Regions from separate parts of the Homo sapiens genome. Here region 2 is linked to region 1. The links come from fine-mapping of genetic effects on gene expression. A gene starts in region 1. The other region holds a variant in brackets. All regions are shown on one strand. Distances are between the middles of the regions.

Region 1 (8,000 bases):
CATGTCTGCAGCATAAAACAGATGTTAGGAAGTTGAGATCAAGTTGGAGAGGTAGGTAGGATCAGTTCCACAGAGCACCTTGAATAAATAGATAAAAACTGAACTGATGGCCCAGAGGCAACAAACACTTTGATGTATTCTGGCCCACACAACATTTTGTAAAATCCCAGCAAGGCAATAAGGGCTACTTAAGTGGAGTAGTGAGATGCAAAAGTCAGAGTGCAGTATCCTGAAGGATAAAAGGTAGGTGAAGAACAGCAACTAAGTGGAATTCATTGTTCTTTGAATAAATTTGACTTGTGAAAGGGTGACACAGAACATAAGACAGAATGTTCTGTTTAATGGGTGTCTAATGTCTAGTGGGGTCCAGAAAAGTGTTTTTTTGTGTGTATGTTTAAGAATTTAAAAAAAACCTAATTATCTGAACACTAAGGGGAGAAAACTTAACTTCTCTATGTTCAGCAATTGGCACAGTGTTTGGAACATACTAGGCACCCAAAGATTTGCTAGAAAAAAAACATTATGAAGGGACCAATAACAAGAGGAGCTGAAGATGGCGAGGGGGTACTGATAGGAAAAGAATCATGAGTAAATAATAAACCTCATATGAGAAAGATATACACGATATGTATCTATTTAAGATGTAAAATGATAAACGACAAAAGTAAGAGCATTAGGCATGGGGAGGCTTTTTTGTATTGTATACTCCTGCCCATCTGAAATTTTTAGTAAGAATAGAATTATCTCAACTTTCAGACTAAAAGGTATAGTGTGAAAGCTTCAGGGAGATTTGTAACAACAGTAAATAAAATGAATTGCGAGGACAACTGTCTGGGAAGCCATGACAGAAGTCCAAAAGAGAAGTAATGGCAGGCACATTGCGGGATTGGTGGCAGTGAAAATGGAATGTGAATGACAAAGATTTTTAAGATAAGAAAACCATGGCTGGCGTTTTTTGTCCATTAAATGAAAAGCAGGAAGTCAGCAGAGTAGCTGGTTTGTGGAGAAAGAATACTCACACATCGATGTGAATTATTTCAATTAGAAAATGATACTGCTTTCTTAGGGCTTTCTTAACTAGGGGTGATTCTGCCCTCCAGGGGACATACTAGCAATATCTAGAGACATTTTCACTGATCACAACTGGGTAAGGGTAGGGTGGGGAACGGGTGTCCTACTGTAATCTAGTGAATAGAAGCCAGGAATGCTGCTAAACATCCTACAATGTTTGAGCACAGGATAGCTCCCCACAATAAAGAATTATGAGGCCCAAAATGTTAACAGTACTGAGGCTGAGAAACCATGTTTAAGACTATAGTTACCGAAACTCAACTAGATTACCAAACTGCCAAAACTCAGAATTCTTAAGCAAAAGATTAATCAGACATTAACAAAACATTAAACTTGTCATTAAGTTTCTTCAAAAATGGATGGTGGAACCATTTCCGTTTAACGTTTCCTGCAAAATGTGCTTATCAAGAGCCCTGCGCAAATAACATTTTTGTGGACAGCGCTGGGCATTTAAAAGAGGCACAAGACAAATGGGTTTTCCGAACAATAAAATAATAGTAGTAATGGCTGTGAATACTATGGGAGGTTTCATCACAGATGCTTGCCATTTACTTTTAGGGACGTCGCATACGACGTCCGTAAATTACTGGCTCGGGTTTTGAGCTTTACCTGGCTCTCGTCCCCTGTAGTACAATCCTCTTTATTCTTTCAGGGGACAAACAACAACAAAACCCGTCTCTCACACAGACAATACACCCTGACAGACAAGTGACCCACAAACAATCCCTCCTCAAATGAAGGTAAAACTAGGGCTAGAAAACGTTCAACTAATTTAAGGCAATTAACCCTCTGAAATTTTTCGCTGATCAAAGGAACAGGAATTGCTGTTTTAAAATATGCAACTGGCATTTCACACCTCTACACTGGACGACGTATTGCGTGGAGGATGGAGAAGGAAGATCACCCCTACTCCCAAATTCGTAGTTATAAGGGCGGGTTATTAGAAGGGCGCCAGGAAGGTCTCTCTACAAAGATGGGGGGCCGGGGAACTCCCTATTTGCCCTATTTTGGTCCCAACACTGAACCAAGGAAATTGCGCCCAAGGTTGAAGCACACGCAATCCGTCCGTCATGCAGACAAATGCTCTTTCAGGGGTCCTAATTAAGTGTGGAGGCCTGACTTTCCTTCCGAATCCGCCCCAGGTGTTCCACCCCGAGCTTCCCCTCGGGCTTCCCCTCGCCACGCAGCCTCTGAAGAGAGGAGCATCTACATACAAAGAGGCTTAAACTGCCCAGAACCTCCGAATGACGAAGAATCACCGCCAGTCTCAACTCGTAAGCTGGGAGGCAAAACCCCAAAGCTTCCCTACCAAGGGAAAACCTTTGGCCTCAAAGGTCCTTCTGTCCAGCATAGCCGGGTCCAATAACCCTCCATCCCGCGTCCGCGCTTACCCAATACAAGCCGGGCTACGTCCGAGGGTAACAACATGATCAAAACCACAGCAGGAACCACAATAAGGAACAAGACTCAGGTTAAAGCAAACACAGCGACAGCTCCTGCGCCGCATCTCCTGGTTCCAGTGGCGGCACTGAACTCGCGGCAATTTGTCCCGCCTCTTTCGCTTCACGGCAGCCAATCGCTTCCGCCAGAGAAAGAAAGGCGCCGAAATGAAACCCGCCTCCGTTCGCCTTCGGAACTGTCGTCACTTCCGTCCTCAGACTTGGAGGGGCGGGGATGAGGAGGGCGGGGAGGACGACGAGGGCGAAGAGGGTGGGTGAGAGCCCCGGAGCCCGAGCCGAAGGGCGAGCCGCAAACGCTAAGTCGCTGGCCATTGGTGGACATGGCGCAGGCGCGTTTGCTCCGACGGGCCGAATGTTTTGGGGCAGTGTTTTGAGCGCGGAGACCGCGTGATACTGGATGCGCATGGGCATACCGTGCTCTGCGGCTGCTTGGCGTTGCTTCTTCCTCCAGAAGTGGGCGCTGGGCAGTCACGCAGGGTTTGAACCGGAAGCGGGAGTAGGTAGCTGCGTGGCTAACGGAGAAAAGAAGCCGTGGCCGCGGGAGGAGGCGAGAGGAGTCGGGATCTGCGCTGCAGCCACCGCCGCGGTTGATACTACTTTGACCTTCCGAGTGCAGTGGTAGGGGCGCGGAGGCAACGCAGCGGCTTCTGCGCTGGGAAATTCAGTCGTGTGCGACCCAGTCTGTCCTCTCCCCAGACCGCCAATCTCATGCACCCCTCCAGAGTGGCCCTTGACTCCTCCCTCTCCTCACTCCATCTTTCCTGGCCTCTCTCCGGGTGCTTAGCGGACTTGGCCAATAACCTCCTCCTTTTAAACGCCCTGAATTGAACCCTGCCTCCTGCGCATCCTCTTTTTGTGTCACCTTAGGGTTCAGATTTAACTACGCGACTTGACTAGTCATCTTTTGATCTCTCTCTCGTATTTAGTACTTTTAGTCAGCGAGCATTTATTGATATTTCAACTTCAGCCTCGCGGTTAAGAGCTTGGGCTCTGGAATCATACGGCTGGAATTGGAATTCTGTCAGTCGTGTGGCCGCTCTCTACTGTCTTGTGAAGATAAGTGAGATAATCTTGACCTGTGGTGAGCACTCGTGAGCGTTAGCTGCTGTATTTACCAGGTACAGATAAGACAACTACAGTGGATGATAATGTATGTGGTGATAGGGGAGTACTCTGATGGTAGAGGAGTGACTTTGGTTCTCTGCAAACTCAGCCTGAGACTATCAATTCAGTTTGTGGTGAGACCTCGCAGTGTTACCTTGGCAGATGGTAGAAGCCTTCCAGATGGAAGGAAAAATGCGTGTAAAGGCACAAAGTGTAGAAGGACCCTGAAGCTCCAGCGTGAGGCCTGGCATTGAATGAAATATATTTTGTGGGTTTTCAGCTGCTGAAGTCATAGGAATGGATGAGACCAAGAAAACAAAGCTGTTTTTGAGGTATGAGCGGAAGAAGAGATATCAGGAGACTTTCGAAACAGTCATAACGGAAGTTAATATGATCATTGCTAACATTTGCTGTGTTTCAGGCACTGTAAGCATGTATATGGGTCCTTAAAGGGACTCATAGAGGTAGGTACTAGTATTGTTTTTCCTTTTATCATTGAGAAACTGAGGTTTGAAGAGATTAGTGAACTTGCTCTAGATTATACAGTTTGTAAGTGGCTGAACCAGGATTTGAACTAATACAATCTGACTACAGAGGCCACACTCCTTAGCACTAGAAAAGAATGGCATGCCAAGGGCAGAGTTATTTCTAGGAAGATGGGATATAAGCGTCATTGTCAAGTTGTGCAAAGGGGTCAACTTGGTTGAGATCTAAAAAGGAACACTGAATTCGTCAATTCAGAGGCTCGTAGGAAGTAGGAAATCCTTATCTTTTCGTTTGAACCTTGAGTGGAACCTAGATATTCTGGATTAATGTATAAATGAAGTTCATCTTTATATGGTGACACTCATACTCTAGTTGACTACCTAATAGTTCCTCTGCCTTCTTTCAGTTCCGCCAACATACTGTGTTCTTTAACATTGTAGAACCCTTTGGCTATGCTAGTCTCCTTCCCTGAAGTGTTGGTCCTCTAGCCCTTTTTTTGATTGGCACCAGTTAGTTCAGATCTTGGCTTTATTATAAACTCCTCTGAGATATATGTTCCCTGACAGTTTATCTAAAATGATTCTCTCTACAGTTATTTTCTATTACTGTGTTTTTGTTTCCTCAGAGGCATACATCACAATTTGGAATTATGCATTGGTTTATCAATTTACTTGTTTATTGTCACCCTGCTGCCCAGATATGACTTCATGAGGGTAGGATTTGTATCTGTTTAGTTCATTATTTGTCTAGCTATAAGTAGTAAATATTGTTTGCATCTATCAGTGAATGAGCATCTTCTGTTTATGTAGATAATACTGAACTGTTTTGTTTTCTTCAAAGTAATCATTAAGCTGAAGGTAAGAAAAACAAGTTCAAGGAAGTCACACCATGGGGAAAAAAAAGTCAAGTTTAGGGCTGCCTCTTCCGGGAAGTGTCAAATCTTTAGTATATTTAGGAATAAAGGTGCCAAACCTTATGGTTCTTTGGATATTGCTAAGGTATTTTCATTGGTTAGATTACCAGTTTCATTTTCCTTATTGACTCAAGAGGGCTTTAAACTGAGATTGAAGAAGTAAGAAGATTCCTAGATAAAACCATAAGGAATGGAAAAACAAAAATGATAATACTTGTCCACAGGAAGTATATAATCAAATGAAAAGAACTCAAATAACAATCTGTAATCTATAGCAGAGTAAAGCGGAAGTTGTAATAGTGTTGGGGGATGGGGGAAGTCAGAAGAACCACCAGTGAATATAAAAGGAGAAGAGAATCAGAGCCATCTGCTAATAAAATGGGTAGTCAGCTCTTTTTGTTTTTTTTGTCTTGTTTTGTTTTGAGACAGTCTCGCTCTGTCGCCCATGCTGGAGTGCAATTGCGTGATCTCAGCTAACTGCACTTTCCGCCTCCTGGGTTCAAGTGAGTCTCCTACCTCAGTCTCCCCAGTAGCTAGGATTGCAGGCACATGCTACCACACCTGGTTAATTTTTGTATTTTTAGTAGAGACGGGGTTTCACGATGTTGGCCAGGCTGGCTGGTCTCGAACTCCTGACCTCGTGGAACGCCCACCTCGGCCTCCCAGAGTGCTGGGATTACAGGCATGAGCCACCACGCCTAGCCCCGGTAGTCAGCTCTTACTGAGAATATTCAAAGACAGGGCATTCATTTTGTAAGAGACATTCCTTCCTTCATAGGAAGATTGGACCTGGTCTTTTAGTTCCTCCCAATTTTGAGATTCTGTGAGATTGAATCGGGGCAGAGAAACATACTTAATCTTGAAAGATTAAGTAGAATTTAGATGGATGGATAGGAGAAGGACTTTCCCTACCTTTTTACTTCTTGAGATATAGTTATTTGTAGGTATAATATACATAAATATATGTATTTTTTCTCTGTTTACAGACATTCATAGTTTAATAAAAAACTTCTTTGTATTATATAAAGGTTTAGATCAGAACTAGTAAAACAGAATGCTGTTTCTTTTTTTTTCTTTTCTATTTTACTTTAGGTTCTGTGGGTAGATGTGCGGGTTTGTTACATGGGTAAATTGCATGTTGCTGAGGCTTGGTGTACGAATGATCCTGTCACTCAGGTAGTGAGCATAGTACCTGATAGGTAGCCCTTCAAGCCATACCTCCCTTTCTTTCCAACCCTCAAACAGTCCCCAGTCTCTGTTCTTCCCATCTTTGTGTCCATGTTGAAATGCTGTTCTTACTACATTTTTTTGAAGGACATCAAAAGAGAGTTTGATTATATCAGAAGCCCCCAAAAGAAGAGAGCTACTCAGTGGAATCAAGGCATAGTAAAATATAGTTGATCCTTGATATTTGCAAAGGATACCACCATAGCATAGAATTTGCTTCATTTCCTTTTAAAACAGAAATGTCATTTTACTCCTATTGTTATGTGTTAAATAAGAACCTTAATACCAGTTGAGATGGAAGTGGTAGACAAAGCTTACTAGCTCTGATAACCTCCTACTTATCAGCTCCAAAGCATGTTTTAAGCCTTTGGCTCAGCAAAATGACATGTCTCTCCATATAAGCAAGAGTGCTTTTTTTTTTTTCTTTGAGACGGAGTCTTGCTCTGTCACCAGGCTGGAGTGCAGTGGCGCGATCTCCGCTCACTGCAACCTCTGCCTCCTGGGTTCAAGCGATTCTCCTACCTCAGCCTCCTGAGTAGCTGGGACTACAAGAGCACACTACCACGCCTGGCCAAGAGTGCTTTTAAATAGTTCATTGTCAATGTTAAATCCTTGAGTGCTCATTTCCTTATTTACCTGGCTGTTTTCTATTCATCTTTCATGTCTCAATTTAAATGTCATGTTTCTTTGGTCTCAGAGTAATAAAAAGTAAATATACTTCCCCCATCTCCCGCCCCGCAGAGCCTTCCTCTGTTGCCCAGGCTGGAGTACAGTGGCTCGATCTTGGCTCACTGAAAGCTCTGCCTCCCAGATTCAAGCGATTCTCCTGCCTCAGCCTCCTGAGTAGCTGGGATTACAGGCGCGCGCCACCAAGCCCGGCTAATTTTTGTATTTTTAGTAGAGACAGGGTTTCACCATGTTGGTCAGGCTGGTCGAACTCCTGACCTTGTGATCCTCCCACCTTGGCCTCCCAAAGTGCTGGGATTACAGGCGTGAGCCACTGCGTCCAGTGTAAATTATACTTTTATTTTAATCCTGCTACTACTGCAAGCAAGGCAAACATTTTTGTGTTACAGCATTACTTGTATAGATTTTAAGAAAATCTCATTTTAAATACGGAAATGTTAAGAAAAATTATTGTGCCTTTGACCAGAATGTGCCTCTAATTGTACAGTTAAATCTAACTATAAATACTGCAGTATAAAATAATTATATACACATTTTTTCACACCTCTTTCTCTCTATATATGCATATATACATATACATATATATACCTATATGTATTTTTTTTACAGACAGTGATGTGTGTTCTGAAATTGTGAACCATGAGTCTAGTACTTAATGATCTGCTTATCTGCTGCCGTCAACTAGAACATGATAGAGCTACAGAACGAAAGGTAGTAAATTACTTAAATTCAATTTTTCCTTGAAATAAGTGTGATTAGTAACCCATTATTATTTCCTTTTTATTTTCAGAAAGAAGTTGAGAAATTTAAGCGCCTGATTCGAGATCCTGAAACAATTAAACATCTAGATCGGCATTCAGATTCCAAACAAGGAAAATATTTGAATTGGGATGCTGTTTTTAGGTATTCTATTCAAATTTATTTTACTGTCTTTATTTTTCTCTTTCATATTTATTTCTGTTGTGATATTACTTTTGTGTGTAAGTCTTAACATTTATCTTTGCTTCCTATATATCATTATGCCTTGCATATGAATTTGGCATTTAATATTT
Region 2 (8,000 bases), 24 kb after region 1:
TCCAAATTTTTGGACTTTTTTTCCAAGGCTATTCAGTGTGCGAGGTAATCTAATCTCTTTTTCTTTTGTTTTGTATTGAAATACTTTTGATCTTGCAAGACCATGTTTTAGACTCAGTAACTAAAAATTCTACCTTAAAATAAAACATTGATCCATCATAACAGAACTAGTGGATTCCTAAAGAGACAACCAAGTCCAACACTTTCTGAATATCCAATATGCAGAACACTACGTGAAGTTTTCAAGGGGGAGATGTGTCTTGCTGATGTTCTGTTGACCAGGAAAGTTAAATATCCTCTAAGTCATTGCATTTCCCCCATTTTGAGGATGGTTTTAATATACCGAGAATAAAATAAAATAGGAAAATATTTTGGAAGTATTACTGTTGTACATTAGTATGGCAGTACTCAATGTATAATGTGAAACATTTTATAAATGGTGTTACAAATCAGTTTTGTTTATTTTTATACAATGTTTTAGCAGGAGGGAGAGCTAACAGAAGTGGTCTCTTAACACCAAATAAGAACTAATTTTTTGTCAGTGTGAAGTAATGCTGTGATTTTTTTTTTTAATGAATAGTTTTGAAATTAAGACTACTGTTTGAAAATTAGGGTTTTGTTTTTTTTTCTTTCAGCATACCACTTCATAACTGTTCAGTTTGTACAGTTTGTTCCCCCTGTTATACCCAGTTGAGCTTGTTTGTTTCTTCACAGACAAGAAAAGAGCTCTTCAGGTCTAAATCATATCTTAGCAGCTCTTACTATCTTCCTCAAGACTTTGGCTGTCAACTTTCGAATTCGAGTGTGTGAATTAGGAGATGAAATTCTTCCCACTTTGCTTTATATTTGGACTCAACATAGGCTTAATGATTCTTTAAAAGAAGTCATTATTGAATTATTTCAACTGCAAATTTATATCCATCATCCGAAAGGAGCCAAAACCCAAGAAAAAGGTATAAAGGAAATGTTTACTGTTTTGAATTTGCTTCTTCATTCAAACATAGAAGTCTAAGTATAAAATTAGTGTTCTTTAGGAGGATATGACTTTCCTCTGGATTTCTCTGGTTGATAATGTTACTTAGCCATGAGAATGTTTTTCATAGAGTTTTTAGAATTTGAAGCAGTGGTAGCAGATTCTGTTATGCCTTTCTATTTGTTCAATACAATATTAGGTATTATGGGAAATACAAAAAAATCTGAGACATTGTTCCCTCTAGGAGCTACTTATGCATCAATACTTAGATACTAAGGGGTCTGACACAGACTGTAGGGCAAAAGAATTTAAAGAAAGCAGGATCTTGTTTATCCACCTATTACTTTTATTAGAAGATAAAATACGTAAATTGGACTAAAACCAGTCAGATTATTCAGCTCCTGAGGAAGATACATACATATTACTTTAATAGGAATTTGAGGCAGAAACAGGGAAATTGCTGCCTTAAGCCTCATAGTTACTCTAGGGCCCTGTTTGCCCTAGAGTATCACTTGTTAAGGAGAATCACTTATTCTCCTTAATTCCTTCATATATGTCCTATACCAAGAGAGTATTGCCCAGAAGGTATAGTGCTTTTCTGTAGTTAGGAACTTTATTGGCTGGAACTGGAGTTTCCTCTTGCTCTGTCTATGATTGCCTTTGGGCTTATACTAGCCTTTGGACCAACTCATCATGGCTAGTATAGTGACTTTCTTAAAACAGCATACCACATTGAGTAATAGCAGCTATAATGGAGGAAATGTCTTGTAGCCACTTTTTTTTTTTTTTTTTTTTTGAGACAGAGTCTCACTCTGTCGCCCAGGCTGAAGTGCAGTGACGCAATGTTAGCTCACTGCAACCTCCGCCTCCTGGGTTCAAGCAATTCTCCTGCCTCAGCGTTCTGATTAGCTGGGATTACAGATGCCTGGCACCATGCCCAGCTAATTTTTGTATTTTAATAGGGATGGGGTCTCACCATGTTGGCCAAGCTGGCCTTGAGCTCCTGACCTCAAACCATCCACCCGCCTCAGCCTCCCAAAGTGCTGAGATTACAGGCATGAGCCACTGTGCCCGGCCGTGTAGCCACTTTTTATCAAAAGTAGCTGTGTATTTGTTTTATGGGCTCTTCTAATAAGTATATCTAGATAATATGTAGCCCATGAAACTACTATAAGTGAAAGAATAGTGACTTTTAATAGTTTTTCATCTTTTACTCACCTCTTATCTCCAGGATGAAGATCAGGCTTATTAGGAGGTGATATGATATGTTTAGGGATTTAGTTAACTGCATATTTAGGGTGAATTTAAAATTGGCAGGATGATGAGGATGCCAGAAAAGCTAATGTAGTTTCAGACTACTTTAATAGATTTTGTAGTACCTTGTTTGTGAGAAATAATAGACCTTTTGTTTCGCATACTAGTCAAGCCACAGTTGGATTACCATGTTCACCAGATTTTGTATAGTCAGCATTTTAAGTTGACTGGAATGTGTCTTGGGAAAGATGACTGAAATGGTGAGAAGTCTGAATAATATGTCATTTTTACACTAGTTGAAGGAACTCGTAATATTTTTCTCTTAGGCCAGAAAAAGGCATACGGAGAACTTGGTCCTCATATGAAAGAGGGAACATATTAATTGTATTTGCCTCAGGTGGGAGAATAAATTGGAGAAAGACAGATTTTAGGTCAGAATATGGAAGAAATTTATAAGAAACACAGTTATCTAAATGTAAAATGGACAGTTATGAAATAGAGTTTGTCAAGGATCTTGTCAGAAGAGGCATTAGTACTGAATGGAAGGTTGGACCAGGTGTCTTCTAACGCTGATGCAGCTTGACAGCTGAATAATTTTGTGGGAGCTAGCAGTGTAAACAGAGTACATACATAAAAATTACATTTTAATTTTTTGGATTACAGGTGCTTATGAATCAACAAAATGGAGAAGTATTTTATACAACTTATATGATCTGCTAGTGAATGAGATAAGTCATATAGGAAGTAGAGGAAAGTATTCTTCAGGATTTCGTAATATTGCCGTCAAAGAAAATTTGATTGAATTGATGGCAGATATCTGTCACCAGGTACAGTAAGTAGGTCATGTCACATTTAGAAATTTCCTGTTAATTTTTTTTTTAAACTGGGCATTTTGGGCTTTTAAAACCTGTGTTCTCACAAAAAGCCTATAAAATGACTCTGTACATGCAACTATTCCTTTCAAACTATCAGAAATATTTGGAATTACCCTTTTAACTTAAAAGTTAATGCTTTTGCAGATATTTGAAAACTAACAATGAACTTTTTCATTCTTAAATGATTGTCTCTAGGAAATAAGGTGACCCTAACCCTAATGATTCGATTCGACTCGACTGTATTCTACAAAGTGCTGGGATTACAGGCATGAGCCACCAAGCCCAGTCTGTTTCTTTTTTGCAATTAAGCTAGAGTTCACATAGCATAAAATTCACGATTTTGAGTTGTACATTTCAGTGGTTTTTAGTATTTTTACTATGTTGTACAACCATCATCACTAATTCTGGAAACTTTTTTTATTTTATTTTTATTTTTTTGAGATGGAGTCTTGCTCTGTCACCCAGGCTGGAGTGCAGTGGCACAATCTCCGCTCACTGCAACCTCCCTTTCCCGGGTTCAAGTGATTCTCCTGCATCAGCCTCCCGAGTAGCTGGGACTACAGGTGCCTGCCACCACGCCCAGCTAATTTTTGTTTTTTTAGTAGAGACTGGGTTTCACCATATTGGCCAGCCTAGTCTCAGACTCCTGACCTTGTGATCCTCCTGCATCGGCCTCCCATAGTGCTGGGATTACAGGCGTGAGCCACCGTGCCCAGCCCAGAACTTTTTTATCATCCCAAAAGAAACCTCATCCCTTCTTAGCATTCAGTCCCAATTCCCTGCATCTCCTAGATCCTGGCAACCAGCCACTAATCAATCTTGGTTTTTGTGGATTTTCCTGTTTGGGACAGTTCGTTTAAATGGAATCATACAATATGTGAGTCTTTTGTGTCTGGTTTCTTTCACTAAGCATAATGTTTTCAAAGTTCATGTTTTACCATGAATCAGTACTTCATTCATTTTTATTGCTGAATAATATTCAGTTGTATGGATATACTCCATTTTACTTACCCATCCATCACCTGATGGCCTAATGTTTCTTAAATAAAACTCTGTTCCCCAGAGATTTGGTTAACATCCTGAGTAGTAATTTCACTCTGTCAAATATTTTCTTAATATTTCTTAAAATTTCTTAAATTTAAAAACTTGAATCCCTTTGAAAGTAAAGGTTTTTGCTTTACTTTTAGATTTCTTAGTGCTTTTAGTAAATGTTCCCAGGAAATAAAACTAATGCATTACTTGGTAATACCTGCTTTCTAAAGTGCCATTACTGTCATGCAAAATGTTTGTTTCTTACTATGTTATCAGATTTATATGTTTCTGTAATGTATTACTCTTGCTTTATGAGTTCCCTGTATCTTCATTTCAGAAAGAATTTTTTTTCCCCCTAATGAAATATTAGAAGACAATAGCAATGAAAAAAGTGTATTTGGCCAGGCGTGGTGGCTCACACCTGTAATCCCAGCACTTTGGGAGGCCAAGGCGGGCAGATCACCTGAGGTTGGGAGTTCAAGACCAGTCTGACCAACATGGAGAAACTCTGTCCCTACTAAAAATACAAAGTTAGCTGGGCATGGTGGTGCAAGCCTGTAATCCCAGCTACTCGGGAGGCTGAGGCAGGAGAATCACTTGAACCTGGGAGGTAGAGGTTGTGGTGATACGAGATCGTGCTGTTCCACTCCAACCTGGGCAACAACAGCGAAACTCTGGCTCAAAAAAAAAAAAAAGAAAAAAGTGGATTTATTTTTATT[T/G]TACAGGTTTTTAATGAAGATACCAGATCCTTGGAGATTTCTCAATCTTACACTACTACACAAAGAGAATCTAGTGATTACAGTGTCCCTTGCAAAAGGAAGAAAATAGAACTAGGCTGGGAAGTAATAAAAGATCACCTTCAGAAGTCACAGAATGATTTTGATCTTGTGCCTTGGTAAAGTGTTACCATTTTCTCATTCAGTGTCATTTTAATCTCTTGTATGTTATTTTTCAGAAAACTTTCAGTGGAATCCTTTCATCTCAACCAGAACTAAGTCATTTGTCTACCCCCAAACCTATTACTAGCAAAGGGATATGTGATTGCCATGACAAATGAGATCAATCATTAATGGCTCATTTGCTTGGGCCAAGTGCAGGGCCACCTATTTTAATCATATTGTCATAGCAAGTTAAGAAGGAGGACTGGCTCTCTGATAGGCAATTAGAAGTGTGCACCTCATGGAATTCACTGAATTGTACGCTTCAACAATAGATTTTAGCATACGTAGCACCTTCTAATAGAATTAGGAAGAAGTTAAAGATAATCTTAAGAAATCACAGAATAATTTTGACCTTATGCCATGATAAAAAGTTATTTTCTCTTATTTTCTATCTTCTTTATTCTCATGTAACGTTCACATATATTTAAGTAATCAAATAAATTATGGATACTTTGGAATCCCAAAATATTAGATCTGGTAAGGATGTTTAGAATTTATCTAGTTCAGCCTGTTTGCTTTACTGAAAAGAAACTGAAACCCAGAGAGGTTAAGCAACTTCTGTAGGGACAGAGATTTATAGATTATAGTCAAACTCGTGATCAGTGCTCTTTTGATTACCATGTTGATGGAATGTTTAAGTGTAAGTGACTTCTGGGGAAAAGCATATTGATTTAGATACCTATTGCTTAAGCTCATTTTTATATAGTTAAGAGTAGCTATTTAAGATTCTTAATTTGTCCTTTTAGTCAAGAGTAATTTATTGAACACCTGTTATGGGCTAAGCGTTAGATATACAGAGATGAATAACATAAGACTCCTATTCTTAAGTATCACACATTCTAGAGAATACACAGCAAATGTTTATTGGATTAACTGAATTAATGTAAAGGAAAAACAGTTTTTTGGGTTTCTTTGTTTTCCTGTTTTAGAGGAATCGTTTGGTGACTAAAGAGCAAGGATGTACAAGATAACTCAGAAATAAAATATTGCTAAATATATATATATATATATATATATTTTCTGAGACGGAGGCTCACTCTGTCACCCAGGCTGGAGTGCAGTGGCACAATCTTGGCTCACTACAACCTCCACCTCCCAGGTTCAAGCAGTTATCCTGCCTCAGCGTCCTGAGTAGCTGGGATTCCAGGCATGTGCCACCATGCCCGGCTAATTTTTGTATTTTTAGTAGAGACTGGGTTTCACCATGTTGGCCAGGCTGGTCTCAAACTCCTAACCTCGTGATCTGCCTGCCTTGGCCTCCCAAAGTGCTGGGAAACCACCTGGCCCAAATATTGCTAATTTAATATCCTTTAAAATATTTGTTTAAGGGAAACTTAACAGCTTACCCAGCTAGCCAAACGTTGACAATTTTCCTGCCAATTTAGGAAGTAGGACATAGTAACTATTAACAGCCAGTTTATTTTTAGAGTACTATGGAAATGATGGTGATTCTCTAATTAGGATATTGTAAGAGTACCATGTCTATATATTTCCTTTTAGTTTGTTAATGTGATGGAATAGTTTTCAAATTATCCTTTTTTTTTTTTTTTAGGCTACAGATTGCAACCCAATTAATATCAAAGTATCCTGCAAGTTTACCTAACTGTGAGCTGTCTCCATTACTGATGATACTATCTCAGCTTCTACCCCAACAGCGACATGGGGAACGTACACCATATGTGTTACGATGCCTTACGGAAGTTGCATTGTGTCAAGACAAGAGGTCAAACCTAGAAAGCTCACAAAAGTCAGATTTATTAAAACTCTGGAATAAAATTTGGTGTATTACCTTTCGTGGTATAAGTTCTGAGCAAATACAAGCTGAAAACTTTGGCTTACTTGGAGCCATAATTCAGGGTAGTTTAGTTGAGGTTGACAGAGAATTCTGGAAGTTATTTACTGGGTCAGCCTGCAGACCTTCATGGTAAGTTCAGCATGCATTATGTCTGACTTACAGATAAACACACACAGACACACACACACTCACATATCCCTGATCATTTTCATAGTTTGTTACTTCAGTTAAAGATGTCAAATTCTATTTCAGATGCTTTTCTTGTTTGGCCGAGAAGACTTAATAAATGCATAAGTGAATTTAGTTTCAAATGTTGACAAATTATTAAAGACTAATGTTAAGGAATTTCTTTTTTAGTTAAAAAATTTTTAATTGATCTATAATAGAGTTATATATTATCAAGGTACATGTGATAATTTGACACACTCATATGACACACTCATGTAGGGTGATGGGATATCAGCACCCTACGTATCTTTTCTTCATGCTAGGAACGTTTGAATTATTCTCTTCTTGCTGTTTGGAAATGTACAATAGATTAATGTTAACCGTAGTCACCCTACTGATGTATCGGACACCAGGTCTTATTCCTTCTAATTGTATACGTGTATCCAAAAGACTTTCTTTAAAGAATTATGAAGAGTTTAAATTTCTTTTATGTGCAATTTATCATTATTTATTAAATAGCCATGTTTAAATTGTAGTACTATGCACTGTTAATAAACGAGCTATTTTTTAATCAAGAATCTTCCCAAATGTAATCAGACTTTTAACAGTTTTTATGTTCATTTAGTCACCTTAACTAAATGTATGTGCCAGGCACTGTCCTGATAGATAAAGTCTTTGCCCCTCCAATAGCTTGCTTTTCACAATTGTCCTTTGTTTTGTTATAGTCCTGCAGTATGCTGTTTGACTTTGGCACTGACCACCAGTATAGTTCCAGGAACGGTAAAAATGGGAATAGAGCAAAATATGTGTGAAGTAAATAGAAGCTTTTCTTTAAAGGAATCAATAATGAAATGGCTCTTATTCTATCAGTTAGAGGGTGACTTAGAAAATAGCACAGAAGTGCCTCCAATTCTTCACAGGTAATTTAAGTTCATTAGCATGCTGCTGTTTTTTTTGTTTGTT

Evidence for each region. PIP is the estimated chance that this variant, and not a neighbour inherited with it, causes the effect.
Region 2: its variant is fine-mapped to the expression of ATM in whole blood (TOPMed, PIP above 0.99).

The regions. Positions count from the first base shown.
Region 1 is chr11:108,220,038-108,228,037 of GRCh38, forward strand. ATM (ATM serine/threonine kinase) reads left to right here and starts at 3,030. Exons shown (of 63, transcript NM_000051.4): 1 at 3,030-3,149; 2 at 7,558-7,659; 3 at 7,739-7,851. The coding sequence starts at 7,588. It overlaps NPAT (nuclear protein, coactivator of histone transcription), which reads right to left and starts at 2,601. Exons shown (of 18, transcript NM_002519.3): 1 at 2,463-2,601. The coding sequence starts at 2,499. RefSeq lists enhancers at 2,497-2,556, 2,967-3,126, 3,437-3,516, 3,867-3,916, 5,413-5,532.
Region 2 is chr11:108,244,075-108,252,074 of GRCh38, forward strand. ATM (ATM serine/threonine kinase) reads left to right here. Exons shown (of 63, transcript NM_000051.4): 6 at 1-44; 7 at 714-952; 8 at 2,890-3,053; 9 at 4,859-5,028; 10 at 6,627-6,998; 11 at 7,763-7,957. Among named protein-coding and RNA genes, the nearest start is that of ATM, 25 kb to the left of the region's middle. The variant T/G (reference allele first, on the strand shown) is at 4,853.